Homo sapiens: one gene and its partner. The protein of the gene in region 2 interacts with the protein of the main gene of each other region in a pairwise test. Each region holds a gene or a part of one and is shown on either strand. Other genes may lie near its edges.

Region 1 (7,274 bases), on a different chromosome or scaffold from region 2:
ATAAAAGTTAAATAGAACACCTGAGGGATGTCTTTAAGATCCTTTAAGGGATTTAAGATATACAAAGCATCTACCATCCACTGACAGGGCAAAATGAGAAACAAGGGAAATAAAAAGCACACCTGACTCACTTAACATAGTAAAGTTAGGCTCCCAGGAAGTTTAAGTTGCCAAATACTGCTTAACTGGTATTAAAAGAATCACAATTACTATGTCATTATCCATGAAGAATTCAGAAAAATAATTAAATGCACACCAAGATAATCAATACAAAACCCAGAAAAGGTCTAACTAATCAACTATTGTTAGGCTGGTGCAAAAGTAATTGCGGTTTTTGCCATTGAAAGTAATGGAAAAACCACAATTACTTTTGCACCAACCCATTACAAACAAGTTTTAACAATCACAAGACTAATGTTTTAGTGACGGCTCCTAAAACTTCAGGGAAAAAAAAAGTGCATTTCTGACTGGCAATAGTTTGCAAAATAATCGTAATGAAACTACTTATTTCTTTATTTTAAAAGTTAATAAAAGGAAACCTCTCAATTTTTAGGAAGAATTCAATTACAATAAAATCATGATGTCTTATGATCTGGCATCTTATAATCTGTGTCTCAGAAAGAAGGGCAATTTACAGCATCAGATGAATACTGGAGTTTAGGTCAGACTTAAGTTATCTGAAAAGAACATAAGGCATTTACAGTTTTTAGCAGGGAAAAATAATCAAATCTCTTTTTTTAAAAAAAACCTTCTTAGTATCTTGGTTAAATGTCCAAAAAGCTGTATTATTTTTAGTTTTAAACCAGTAGGCACTATTCGAAACTGAGAATTCAGGATGTTATCAAATACAAATTTTTAAAAGCTTGACCATTAAAGCATAAATTGCCTAATGAGACACATGTAATCATAAAAACTAACGCCAGGATCATTTACTTGTGATTGGATATATGCCATTTATTTTTCTGGCTTCTTTCTAATGTGTAATTCCTGCTGAATTGAGTGAGCATGTCAGATTTCTATCTTTATCTTAGTGTGTGTAAAAGTTCTCAACCTAGACAAGGACAAATTTTAGAATTTTCCAATGAACATCATTCACTATGTATGATGCTGTTTTGTTAAACTAGCTGTTTGGAAAACAATAAAGATTTCATTTGTTTTGCGTTAGCCACAGAGAGTGGACTTGTTTAGAATGTAAAAGTATTTATCTCAAATACTAAAATCAAACTCAAGAAAAATCAAACAATGCTGGAGCTGAGAAAAATAATGGCTATATATCTGGTTGAACATGTTGAAAGAAAAGTGAAAACACAGCCAGGCATGGTGGTGCGCACCTGTAATCCCAGCTACTTGGGAGGCTGAGACAGGAGAATTGCTTGAATCTAGGAGGCAGAGGTTGCAGTGAGCCAAGATCAACCACTGCACTACACAGCCTGGGTGACACAGACTCCTTCACGCACACACAAAAAAGTGAAAACAAACTTGGAAGTCTAGAATGAAGAATTACATCTAATGCAGTAATATTCTTCCCACCTTTCCATATTAAATGTAAGAAGCACCAGCAAAAAATACTAAAGACAGAGAAATGACCTGGCAAAATGATTCAAATACCACAGAGCGTGAGAATATTCCTCAGTAAAGCTCAAGATATTATGAAGTAGCTAGCAGAAGAAATGGCAGGGGTAGCGGAAGTAAAAATTCTAACCATATGACAGACTCTAACAGTAAGTCATAAATTCTAAAGGTTTAATTAGTAAATTCATTATTTCCTCCAAAATATACTGTCATTCTTCTCTTAACAATGAATGTTTGACACAAATCCAATTTTGATGTTAAAAGTCAACATACATAGATAGGTCCCTCATGTTGACAGAGCACAGAATTGGAAAAAAAAACTGCAAATGAGAAATAGGGGTATTTCTAAATCTTCTGTATTCCTAAAATATCACACTGCGCCCTTGCTTCAGCCTCCCTGATAGACTGGTTTGGGTGTGCAATATTAATGCAGGAATACGTGGAATACCAGCACAAAGCCGGGGAGGGAGACTAGCAAACTCTCGCCATCAATTATTTCTCAACTACATTTAGTATTCTTCGCAGTTTTAGATTTTTTTTTCCTTTAAGCGAAAACCACTCCACTGAAAAAAATTCCAAACTTGTTTTTTAAAAATTGCAGGAATTTCTTCGTATTTTATCAACAAAAATACCAGAAATTAAAGAGCTGACAGAAATTCAAGCAGATCCAAATTCAACCATCCATTTTTCATACTTCTCCAAGTCTGCAGCAGAGACAGACTTAGCAATTTTCTTTAGGGCCAATTCAAAGTCTCCTTTGGTAACAGGCATCTGAAGTTCCTCTTTAGAAAGTGCACGGATTTCTTCTGGACTTAAGCCATTGATACGCCGTCTCATTGCCATTAAAGAGGCATCCCTAAAAATATACCAAAATCAGTCAACAGTAATTTTTGCACATGTTTTAAACACTTTCAATTGTAACAAAGTTATGAAAAAAAAATCAAAAGATTATTTTATATGTTTTTATGAGGCTTCTTAGAATTTTCCACTTAAGAAACATCCTGGGGGTTCAGCAGAAGTTAAGACAGGATGCAAACAACCAAAAACATGAAATGTATAGTTAACGAACCCTAAAAGTCTAAGTTAAGCTCGAATAGTACTGAATTTTCTTTTCTCCACTTGCTCCTCAAAGACAGCCAAGAAGTTTAGGAAACTGAAGTCAAATTTTGAAATACTGAATTGTACACTTGGAAATGAACATATGGCTAATGTTAAGATAATTCAAACCACAGACCAGTTTGTCTACAGCCTAAATAGAGGAATAAAGACACGAATCACTCCCTCTGAAACATGAATATCCACATATAGTGGACATGGAATTCCCTACATGGAGTATTTGTAGGCAACTGAAGGCATAAACTCTGGCTTCTCTTGATCCCATGTGCAGCTCTCTTTGACCAACTATAAATAAATATGAAGGTCTGGAAGAAAAGGATAATTCATAATCACAAAAAAGCTATTAGGAAGGCCAAGCCAACAAAAATGTCAAGTTCTTAAATATTTTGCTATAGTAGCAGTAGGAACTATTGCAACCTTATTGTATGCCACTAAACTTGGATGCACATGGGAAAAATGCGAGCAGAAAAGGTGAGAAAAACAGATGCTGTGGCTTTAAAGAAAGGCTACTAAAGTCAATTTAAGTGCAGTTAGAAAAATAAGAAAAAAAATAACTGCAGTGACAGGAACTGTCTAAAACTTATGATGTCGCTAAACTGAAAAAATTTTAAACGTGTATCTTCCCCAGCTTACGCTGATCATTTTTGCTCATTTGCATGTGTTTAAATAATGCCAACAAAAACTAAATAATATTACTTTAGGTTGATGCAGAAAGGCTCCAACACAAAGCTAAACTAATCTTAGGTTGTCAAAGTCATTATTATCGAGTTAGACACAATAATTTCTTTTTTTTTCTTTTTTGAGACAGAGTCTCGCTCTGTTGCCCAGGTTGGAGTGCAGTGGCGCGATCTCGGCTCACTGCAAGCTCCACCTCCCGGGTTCATGCCATTCTCCTGCCTCAGCCTCCCGAGTAGCTGGAACTACAGGTGTCCGCCACCACACCTGGCTAATTTTTTGTATTTTTTAGTAGAGGCGGGGTTTCACCGTGTTAGCCAGGATGGTCTCGATCTCCTGACCTCGTGATCCACCCGCCTCGGCCTCCCAAAGTGCTGGGATTAGAGGCGTAAGCCACCGACACAACAATTTCTTAAAAATCCAAAGATCAAAAACATCAACGACCACTGCTATATAATTTTCATCTCACAATGAAAAATAAAGTTATATGTAAAAAAAAAGGGACAAATGGGAAACCATTTTAAAGAAATGGGTAGCTGCTTTCATGTCTAACTACACTGGGCTAACTACATTGACTTTAAGACCAGTCCTCCTGCGAAGTCTATAACTAATGTCTAAAATCACAGATCATTAAAAAAATACCTGCAAACATTAGTGATGTCAGCACCAGAATAGCCCTCAATCTTCTCGGCTATATCTTCCAGTTGAATATCAGGATCTAATTCGACCTCACGAAGGTTGATCTTCAGAAGCTCAGCTCTTCCTTTTGCTGTTACAAGATTTTGGTGGTGTTGTTAGATGTTTTACTTTACAAATAATTTTGCTGAGAAATGACATATTAACATTTGGGGGAAAAATGAGGCCAATGCAAAGAAGAGTCAATAACTGTGTGTCCATTAGTATTATTACCAATTCACTGCATGACTCATGGAATCATTTAAATTCCTATGTGCCTCTGTTGCAGTAACTAAAAATTGAAAAAAAAAAAAAAAAAAAACACCAAAAACCACCTAGGTTTTCTTTAAAGACTGTGAAGATACCTACTATGAGAACAAAGAATCTGAGATTCTTCATGAAAAATATAAATATCAGTTTTCAAGCACCGGAAATGCTTCTCAAAAAAAAAATACTTAGCCTGGTGTTACAAAATTACACTGCATCAAGTGTAACTCCTATGAATTACTTTGCTCACCTGTTAGTATGACATGGATCTCCAGAACTCTTATCAGTAGTTTAAAGAACATTTCCTGAAAATCAGTAATTGGCACAAAAAGCTCATTAATGTATTTTTTACTTGGAGAGCCAGCCCACAGACATTTGCTGTTCCAGTATGATTTAAATGTGAACTGAATAAGTTCAAACATACTAGAGAATTTTTAAAATAACCAATCATGCTTGCCATTTCACTAGTGCTTTTAGTGGCAAATCTGCTTAGCACAGCACACTAAGATAATGCATTACTAGTTTATCTGGCGCTCTACTATTTCCTGAGATACAAAATGAAATTTAATTTTCTTCTACTTTTATTTTGAAAAATGCCATATATACAGGAAAAGAAAATCAATGAATACCCATTTCCCTTTCACTGAGATTCACCAATTGCTAACATTTTGCCATTATCACTCTAGCTGGCTCGTCATCTCTCCTCCCTCAACTTTTTGAATTGAGCGCTAGCTGCAGGCATCACAACACTTCACCTTAAATTCCCCAGCATGTATCTCCTAAGAAAAAAGGTAGACATAGCATTTCTCACCCTTATCAGGAGATTTAATACTGGAATATTAGTGTCTAATACACAATTCAAAGCAAAGTTTCCCTATTTGTCCCAAGCCTTTATAACTTTTACAAACCATAACACATTGCAGTCAGTTACTATGTCTCATTCACCTTCTTTCATCTAAAACAGTTCCCCAGTGTTTACTTTTTGGTTCATTTTGTTTTGTCTTTCATGAAATTGACAATTCTCCCCCAATTGATCTTATACAGCCAAAGCATTCCAATAAAGATCCTCCTAAAAGGTCTATCTGTAAAAACTAACGGGCAGATACCAAAATGTTCACAGAAATGGAAAGAACCAAGAACAGCCAAGATGCTCTGGAAGAGCAACAGCAAAGTGGAAAGAAATGCTCTATCAGATTTTAAGACTTACTACAAAGGTATAGGACTCAAAGCAGTGTGACCCTCTTGTGGAAATAGACAAATAGATCAATAGTACAGAACGGGGTGCCCAGCAGCAGACCGAAGCATAATTACAGACACTGAATTTATGACAGAGGTGGTTCAGGCCGTGAGGGGAAGGAGTGTCTTTTCAATTAATGATGTAAGAACAGCTGACTATCCACAGGGAAAAAAATGAAATCAGGTCCTACATCATACTGTGCACAAAAATCAGTGCCAGATATATTACATCTAAATGCAAAGTTGTAAGTATTTTATAACAGAGAAGAATATCTCAATGACCTCAGGGAAGTATTCTCAAGACATATATTCAAAAAAAATCAACAAGGAAAAGATTGATAAACTGACCACATTAAAATGAGGAACTTCTATTCATCAAAAGATACTGTCGACACAGTGAAAACAGATAAGTTACAGAGTTTGAGAAGATATTTGTAACATATATAAGCAACCAAAGACTTGTATCAAGAATATTTAAGGAATTTCTAAAAATCAGCAAGAAAAAGTCAGACTACCCAATAGCCAGCGTGCCTGGCAATGCACAGTGGCCGGACCCTGGTGCTTGCTTGCTCATGCACCCCTCACCACTCTGTGCCTGGCTTGCCCTTGGCCGGCGTGGGATCAGGGCCAGTAGCTCCAGCCGAGCTCAGCCTGCCAGGCCCAGTGGTCAGAACGCTGGGCTCAAGCAAAACTCCAGCAAAGGTGCCACCAAGGATCCTGCAACACAAGCACTTTGGAAAACATATTGAATTCATCTATTAATACTGCAGCTGTGCGGCACTACCTAGCAATTCACTCCTAGGATGGAATGCTCCATTCTGGCATTCTTACCACTATACATGTATGAAAATGTTCACAGTAGCACTGTTCATAATAGCCTAAAACAAGAAATAATTAAAATGTCCACCAAACAATATGATGGATACATTTTGATATAATCACATAATAGATGGTATGGGTTAAACCATGTCCCTCAAAATTTTTAGGCAACTCCTAACCCCCAGTACTTCAGAATGTGACTGTATTTAGAGACAGGAGAGGTAATTAAGGTAAAATGAGGTCATATGGGTGGGCTCTAATCCAACATGACTGGTGTCCTTATAAGAAGAAGCGGTTAGGACACAAAAACCCCTAAGGGGAAGACCACATGAAGACGCCGGGACAAGATGGCCACCTATAGGCCAAGGAGAGAGGCCCCAGAGTGCAACCACCCTGCCTACACCTTGGTCTTGTACTTCTAGCTTCCGGTACTATGAGAAAATACAAACTACCATCAGAGAATACTACAAACACCTCTACGCAAATAAACTAGAAAATCTAGAAGAAATGGATAAATTCCTCGACACATACACCCTCCCAAGACTAAACCAGGAAGAAGTTGAATCTCTGAATAGACCAATAACAGGAGCTGAAATTGTGGCAATAATCAATAGCTTACCAACCAAAAAGAGTCCAGGACCAGATGGATTCATAGCCGAATTCCACCAGAGGTACAAGGAGGAACTGGTACCATTCCTTCTGAAACTATTCCAATCAATAGAAAAAGAGGGAATCCTCCCTAACTCATTTTATGAGGCCAGCATCATCCTGATACCAAAGCCGGGCAGAGACACACCCAAAAAAGAGAATTTTAGACCAATATCCTTGATGAACATTGATGCAAAAATCCTCAATAAAATACTGGCAAACCGAATCCAGCAGCACATCTAAAAGCTTATCCACCATGATCAAAT
Region 2 (7,274 bases):
TCCCCTCCTGACCCTGATTGAAGGTTCTTCTGGAGATTTGGGCCAGAGAGCCGCTAGTCTCTAGGCACAGCCTCAGGAAGAGACATGTGCCATTCTATAAATGGAGCGTTAAAAGAAAGTCTACATATGGACAGTGAGAAAACCACCATGCGCCTTCCCCCACCCCAGCTCATTCCCGTGGCTGGCTCCTTGAACACTGATGACCAAGCAGAAGGAGAGACCTGGTACAGATGCCAGATGGTCTGAGGCCAGCCAAGGCTCATCAGGCATTTGAGGAAAACCTCTAACTCAAAAGAGAGCCTACAGCAAGCCAAGAGGAAAACGCGGATTCTATGCTGTTAGGGTCGCCTCGAGGGGTCTCCACTTCCCTCCACACTGCTTACCATCTTCTCAAAGAAAGGCCCACAGGACAGCCTGGCCTTGTTGTGGGCTGCTTGTCGGGGTCTCTGGACACCTGTCTCTCCTTCCCACACCAACCCCAACCTCTCCTGCACAGGAATTATGCCCCACAGAATACACCACCATACCTACAGAGGGACGAGACTCCTAGGAATGAAACCAGCTGAATTCACCCTGTGGTGTGCTGGTAAATGTTTAATGATGAGCTCTCTGGAAAAAAGAAACTCCAATTTGTAGGCATTTGCTCACTTCTGTGGTGTAAATGCTCCCACCACAGCTGATTCCAAACTGCCAACAGGAAGTCACTGATTGTGGGCCGGGTGCGGTGGCTCACACCTGTAATCCCAGCACTTTGGGAGGCCGAGGTGGGCAGATCACAAGGTCAGGAGATCAAGACCATCCTGGCTAACATGGTGAAACCCCATCTCTACTAAATATACAAAAAAAAAAAAAAAAAATAGCCGGGTGTGGTGGCGGGCACCTGTAGTCCCAGCTACTCAGGAGGCTGAGGCAGGAGAATGGCGTGAACCCGGGAAGCGGAGCTTGCACTGAGCTGAGATCACGCCACTGCACTCCAGCCCGGGCGACAGAGCGAGACTCCGTCTCAAAAAAAAAAAAAAAAGAAATCACTGATTGTGGAGTAGGGAAGACATGGGCACAACCAGCTCTTACAAGTCAGTACAAGCTGGCTCCAGCACACCACTGGGGTTCCCTCTGAATGGCAGTGACTGGGAACTCACTCAGGCCCCTGCTGTGAATCCAGTGCCCTCTGCCTCCATCCCCCTCTTCCATGCCCCATGACCCATGAGCTCAACTAGCCTCAGAGCCAGCTCTTCTAGACCAGAGGAGACGGCAAGGATGGGAAATCCTTCCCCCACCAACAAACTACAAGTCAGAAGCAGCAGCTTTATGTAAAACTGGGTCTGGGAGGGGACCTAGAGTCTGTGTTCATTCCCTGCATTCTTCCTCATTCTGCAGCAGCTGCTCCAACCAGGGTAAGATGACCTTGTAAGAGAGCAGGAGTCATGGCCAGTTGATGGATCTCTTCCTTTTTTTAAATTAATTTTTTTTTTTTGACGGAGTCTTACTCTGTCACCCAGGCTGGAGTGCAATGGCATGATTTCGGCTCACTGCAACCTCTGCCTCCTGGCTTCAAGGGATTCTCATTCCTTAGTCTCCCGAGTAGCTGGGATTATAGGCACCTGCCATCATGCCTGGCTAATTTTTGTAGAGACGGGGTTTCACCATGTTGGCCAGGCTGGTCTTGAACTCCTGACCTCAGGTGATCTGCCCACCTTGGCCTCCTGAAGTGCTGGGATTACAGGTGTGAGCCACCACACCCACCCTCTCTTCCTTGGAGGGGTCCGAGCCTGGACCATCGGGAGGCTGGAGCTAGGATGGGCTTTGCTTGGGACTCAGCTCTGGAGAAGGGTTGAGGTTACTTTTGGGGTTAGGGAACTGAGAATCAAGTCCTTCCAAGTCTTCAGAAACCTCTGGACATAACCTTACTGTATAACATCCCCATGGCCTGTTTACCTACCCACAGCCACCCATTCAGATGCCAGGGAAAGGAAGGACAAACTTTAACTGCTGCTGAGAAGAGAGACCTCCCTTTATCATTGTCAATAGGTGGGCATGGCACAGCTGTCTTAGCCCGAATATAGGTCACTCCTCCTGCAGTGAGCAGCCCTTCCCCTTGGGGACCTGAGGTCACAGGGGTGAGGGTGAAGGGTCGGGGGCTTCCGTTTGGCTCAGGCCTAGGAGCGCCACAAGACCAAGTTGGCAGGAGGCACATCAAAGCGCTTGCGGGTGTGGTCAGTGTCCCGGCGGTACAGGTAGCCACAGGTAGGCTTCTGCAAAGTGTAGAAGGGGTTCAGGGAGTTGGAGTACTGGGAGGTGTAGAAATTGAACCTGAGCTTGTCCGGATTCTGCCCCTTAGAGTCCACAACGACCGGCACATAGGCTGCTGCCAGAGACTGCTCGAGGTCCTGCTTCCACGCCCGGGGCCGGGACGAGTGTGGAGCCTTCACCCCCTTGCATGACGGTGTCTTTGGCCCATGACTGGGTACAGAGGGTTTCTGTGAGTCCTGGGAGGGGGGAAAGAAGGGGAGAGCTGAGGCATTGGATACTGGGACTTCAACTGCTATGCCAGGGGCAGAAGGGAGGAGAAAGAGCCACTGCTCAGAAGCCCCCAGAGCCACTCTGGAGCACTGCTGTGCTGACCATGGAGCCAGGGACCTCCAGAGCAGGGGAGAGCCATCAGGGTCCCCTGACCTGGCCCCCTGCTGCTGCAGAACTCTGCCTACCTACCAGAGGCAACTGCCAGCTCCCAGAGGCTAGGAACCTGGGGATTATCTTCAGTCCCTCCCCACCCCCCTTCCCTGCATCCAATCGTCTGTCCGTGTCCTTGGCCTGGCTCCTGTGTGGCCCTCCCCTCCCTCTTCCCTGCCACTGCTCCGTCAGGCCTTCGACCTCTCTATCCTGTGGGGCCCCTCCAGCTTGCCCTCCACCAGGGCTTCCTGTCTCCCACCCTCCTACTTGGTCACGCTGTGCTTCACACTCACAGAGCGAGACTCCATCTCAAAAAAAAAAAAAAAGAGTTTCGCTCTTGTTGCCCAGGCTGGAGTACAATGGCACGATCTCGGCTCACTGCAACCTCCGCCTCCTGGGTTCAAGCGATTCTTCTGCCTCAGCCTCCTGAGTAAGCTGGGATTACAGGCACCCGCCACCACGCCCGGCTAATTTTTGTATTTTTAGTACAGATGGGGTTTCACCATGTTGGCCAGGCTGGTCTCAAACTCCTGACCTCAGGTGATTCACCCGCCTCGGCCTCCCAAAGTGCTGGGATAACAGGCGTGAGCCACTGCGTCCAGCCTACTGTGTCTCAAAAAAAAAAAAAAAAAAAAAAAAAAAAAAGAATGTGGCTTCCACTCTCCAGTCCCTCCATCCCTCCACCTACCCAGCATTTCAGCCACACAGTCTACCTCTTGTTCCCTGCTCACATCCGGTACTTCCAGAGCCTGTACCTTGGCTCAGGTGTTCCCCAGCCTTGCGTGCTCTCCCTCCTGTGCACTAGGGAAATTCTGTCTTTCCCATTAGAGTTTCAGCTCCTTGAGGGCAACTATCTCATACTCTTACCCTTGACATAACAGCCTCCAAAATCCTATTTACTGTTTTACTCCAGAAGAATGCATTTAGAGAAAGCTTGATAAATGCTGGATCAATTGAACTGAATTCTAGTAAGGGGTACCCGCTCACTTTCCAGCCAGCCAGCCCATTCTATTTTATAACATATCTCATTGTTACCAAATGTGTCTCCTACTCACCCATACCTACCTCGTCCTAACCACCACTCTTGGTTGATTACTTATTGGGGTCTACTCAATCTCTAGGAGGCCCCCATTGACACATTTAGCGCCTCACATTGACATTTATTTATTCCTCTGTCACTACCCTTCCTGTGACCAAGCTATCCTGTTCACCTTCAAATCCCCACACCACGTTTCAGGTACCAGCTGTACATTTTACTAGGGACTGTCCTCACCGTGACAGCACCACCAAAGGATGAAGCATCTGTAGGCAATCATCCATCCTGCGTGTGTGTCAGGCTGGATCTATTCTGCTCCCCCAGGCTTCAGCGGTCAGGGGAATCCATTTCCTCTCCCCCAGCCTCACAGCCCTCCAGCCTCTAGGCACTGTGAGAGAACCCCTAGGTACAGGGTTAGTGGAAGTTGAGCTCCTGCCCTCTTACAAAAGAAGTCTCCTTTGCTCAAATCATGATGTATTTCCTCTGTGTTTTGTTTTGTTTTTTGTTTTTTGAGATGGAGTTTCGCTCTTGTTACCCAGGCTGAAGTGCAAGGATGCAATCTCAGCTCACTGCAATCCCCACCTCCTGGGTTCAAGCAATTCTCCTGCCTCACCCTCCCGAGTAGGTGGGATTACAGGCATGCGCCACCACACCAGGCTAATTTTGTATTTTCAGTAGAGATGGGTTTTCTCCACATTTGTCAGGATGGTCTCAAACTCCCGACCTCAGGTGATCCGCCCGCCTCAGCCTCCCAAAGTGCTGGGATTACAGGCATGAGCCACTTCACCCGGCCTCCTCTGGGTTTAATTTACAAACTATCTGCCCAGCCCAAACTTGTCCAGGGCTTTCCTCCAAAGCAGGCTTTGTTCCTATTGGTTCCTACCCAGGTATAAATGTGCCCTCAGTTTTGCAAATTTGCAGTTTTTGAAATTCTTCCTATTCTTCCAAGTTCAGCAGCAGACTTGAAACCTTCTCCAGGAACCACTGAAGACTCCTGCAGCCCCTGTCCCATCTTGTCCTCTTCTGTGCCTTCTGGACCCCTCTCAGGATGTGCTCCTTCGCTGGAGGGACTAAGGTGAGTCAGGCACACACATTTTGAAGAAGTTGTCATTCAGAGTCCTACAAGTGCACTGGGACCGCTTGCTGCAGTCTCGTCTCATCTTAGTCCCAGTATAGTCCTTTGCTAAAGTCCCAACAGGCTGTAAACGGCTCCAGCAGTCAGGACTGCGTTCTATGCATCTCTTTTTCCCTAGAGCCTACCCCAGTGCTGATGCACAGCCACAAGAAATGAGCAAGTGTTCTACAGCCTTCCCAGACTCTTCCAGGCTCAGCCCCAGGGCACAGGGGCTTATAGGCAGAGGGGCAAGCACTGGAAATGAACTGTGATAGTGGTCATCAAAGATTGTTTTCTAGCCAGGTGCAGTGGATCACACCTGTAATCCCAACACTTTGAGAGGCTGAAGTGGGAGGATCACTTGAGGCCCAGAGTTCAAGACCAGCCTGGGCAACATGGGGAGACCTTGTCTCTATAAAAAAAAAATTAAAAATTAGCCAGGCATGGTGGCATGCACCTATGGTCCTAGCCACTCAGGAGGTTGAGGCAGGAGGATGGCTTGAACCCAGGAGGTCGAGGCTGCAGTGAGCTGTGATCACACCACTGCACTCCAGCCTGGGTGACAGAGCATGACCCCATCTCAAAAAAAACAAAAGATTCTTTTCCACTTCAGTCTGTAGCACCGCACCAAACCCTGTCAGTGGATTACCTCTTCTAATCCTCACATTAACCCTTTGAGGAAGGTGTTACTATTATTAGCCCCACTTGTAATTGACAAAAACTGAAGAGGTCAGTCCCCTGTCCAGGGTCACATGACTGGTGAGGAGCAAGGCTGGGATTTGAACCCAGGTCTTTCCACACCCTGTGCTCCATGACGTGTCTTGTGCCCACTGTGGTATGTGAGCAGGGCCTGCCAGGGGCCTGTGGATCTTCTATTTCTTTCTGTCCTCATTTCATCAACCCACTGAGCTCCTGCCAGGTGTGCTGGGTGGCAGGTGATTAGCCAAGGCTGCCCTGCACAGCTTCCGGCTCACTGGAGGGCGGGGCAGCCAGATTTCCCAGTCTGGCAAGAACACTGTGGGATTTTGACTGCTGGATTTGGGCTCTGGGTTCTTGGACCCTGCATGGACAGAACAACACACTGGGAAGTGTGAGGTCTACACCATGAATCACCATCTCTTAGCAGAGCTGAGGATAGGACATGAGTTGCTTCATTCGTTCATTCACAACCATTCCTGGGCACCTCTTGGATGCCAGGCTCTTGGTGTGAAGGTGACAAAGACACCACGACTGAGCACAAGAGGGTCCCTGTGGAGTACAGTGGCTCAGCCTTGGTACCTCTGCCTCTTTGGGCTGGACAATCTTTGTTAGAGGGGTTGTCTTGTGTCTTGCAGAATTACAGTGGTGGCTTCTACCCACCAGATGCCAGTAGCACCTTCTCCCAGTCGTGACAACAAAAATGTCTCCAGTCATCGCCCAATGTCCCCTGAGGGCAGTGACAATCAGTGCTATAGGACCCATGGCAATCTCTTTATCCTTGGTAGAGGCTGACATCCTGGCCTGGAGAATGCGTCCTTTCCTGGGCTGCAAGAAGCGGCTTAGGTTTCTTTGTGTTAAGGATGTGTCTAAGCATGTGGGTTTTGTCCTCCTGACGCCACAGAAGGGCCATGAAGATGAGGGAGCTGCAGATACCCCACCCCCCATCCCTGCTCCCCACTAACCCTTCAGCCCCAAGGCTGCATCAGCCTCTTGGCCATCTTGGGCTCATGGGGTTGGGGCCAGGGGTGACAGAGGCAGGTGCTTTTAGAATGGCTGGGGAACTGAAGAGAGCAGCCCACAGATGGAAGGGTGGCACTCTTTACTCACAGGATTGAGGATCTGCCAAATGTCAGGCATTAGCCACTCAGCTCTGCAAAAGCTCCTAAGAGCCATTTGAGACATTGCCTCCATTTTTCAGATAAGGAAACTGAGGCTCGGAGGCATCAAAGCATTTTTCTGAGTTCACAGTTTGTAGAATAGCATGTAAGTAACTTGCAGAAGTCCCACAACTGGTTAGTGTGGGAACCAGGATTCAAACTCTCTCCTCCCTTTCTGCCCTAGCCCAGGCCCTGGCTTGGGCCCACCTGCCCTGGGTCCACACCTCGGCTGTGTTTAGAATGCTGCTGCTGCAACATACAGGACTCTGGGGGCAGCAGGGGTAGGGGACAGCCAGGGTCCCCGGAACATCCAGGGATGAAGCCCTCACAAAAACTGGGACACAGACAGTCTAGGGGAAGAGGTGGAAGAGGAGGAAGAGGGAGTCAGGCAGCACTAGCCCTCCCCTGCCCTTTCTAGGGGCCAAGCCAGCCTCCAAGTGACTAACCTCAGAGGGCTGAGGACACCCCATTACCTCCCCCAGGGCCTAGCAGAGCCAGCTCTGGCTGAGGGTGGGGCCTGACTGCATACTTTCCAGGTTAACATCTGGTTTCTTTTAACTGGCTATTCTTTGCTCACATGCTCCTCGTCAAGTGTGCT

The links.
Region 1: the proteins of GUCA1ANB-GUCA1A (region 2) and KATNAL1 interact in binary tests that used the Homo sapiens proteins (3 or more experiments, as listed by UniProt).

The regions. Positions count from the first base shown.
Region 1 is NC_000013.11:30,206,311-30,213,584, forward strand, and holds part of KATNAL1 (katanin p60 ATPase-containing subunit A-like 1), read right to left. Parts: intron 4,133-7,274; coding exon 4,006-4,132; intron 2,429-4,005; coding exon 2,230-2,428; 3' UTR 1-2,229. UniProt on the Homo sapiens protein: Regulates microtubule dynamics in Sertoli cells, a process that is essential for spermiogenesis and male fertility. Severs microtubules in an ATP-dependent manner, promoting rapid reorganization of cellular microtubule arrays.
Region 2 is NC_000006.12:42,158,132-42,165,405, reverse strand, and holds part of GUCA1ANB-GUCA1A (guanylyl cyclase-activating protein 1), read right to left. Parts: intron 2,487-7,274; coding exon of another isoform or gene 2,157-2,486; exon of another isoform or gene 1,940-2,156; intron 1-1,939. Other genes in the region: CIMIP3 (ciliary microtubule inner protein 3), read right to left, coding at 2,157-2,486. UniProt on the Homo sapiens protein: Stimulates retinal guanylyl cyclase when free calcium ions concentration is low and inhibits guanylyl cyclase when free calcium ions concentration is elevated.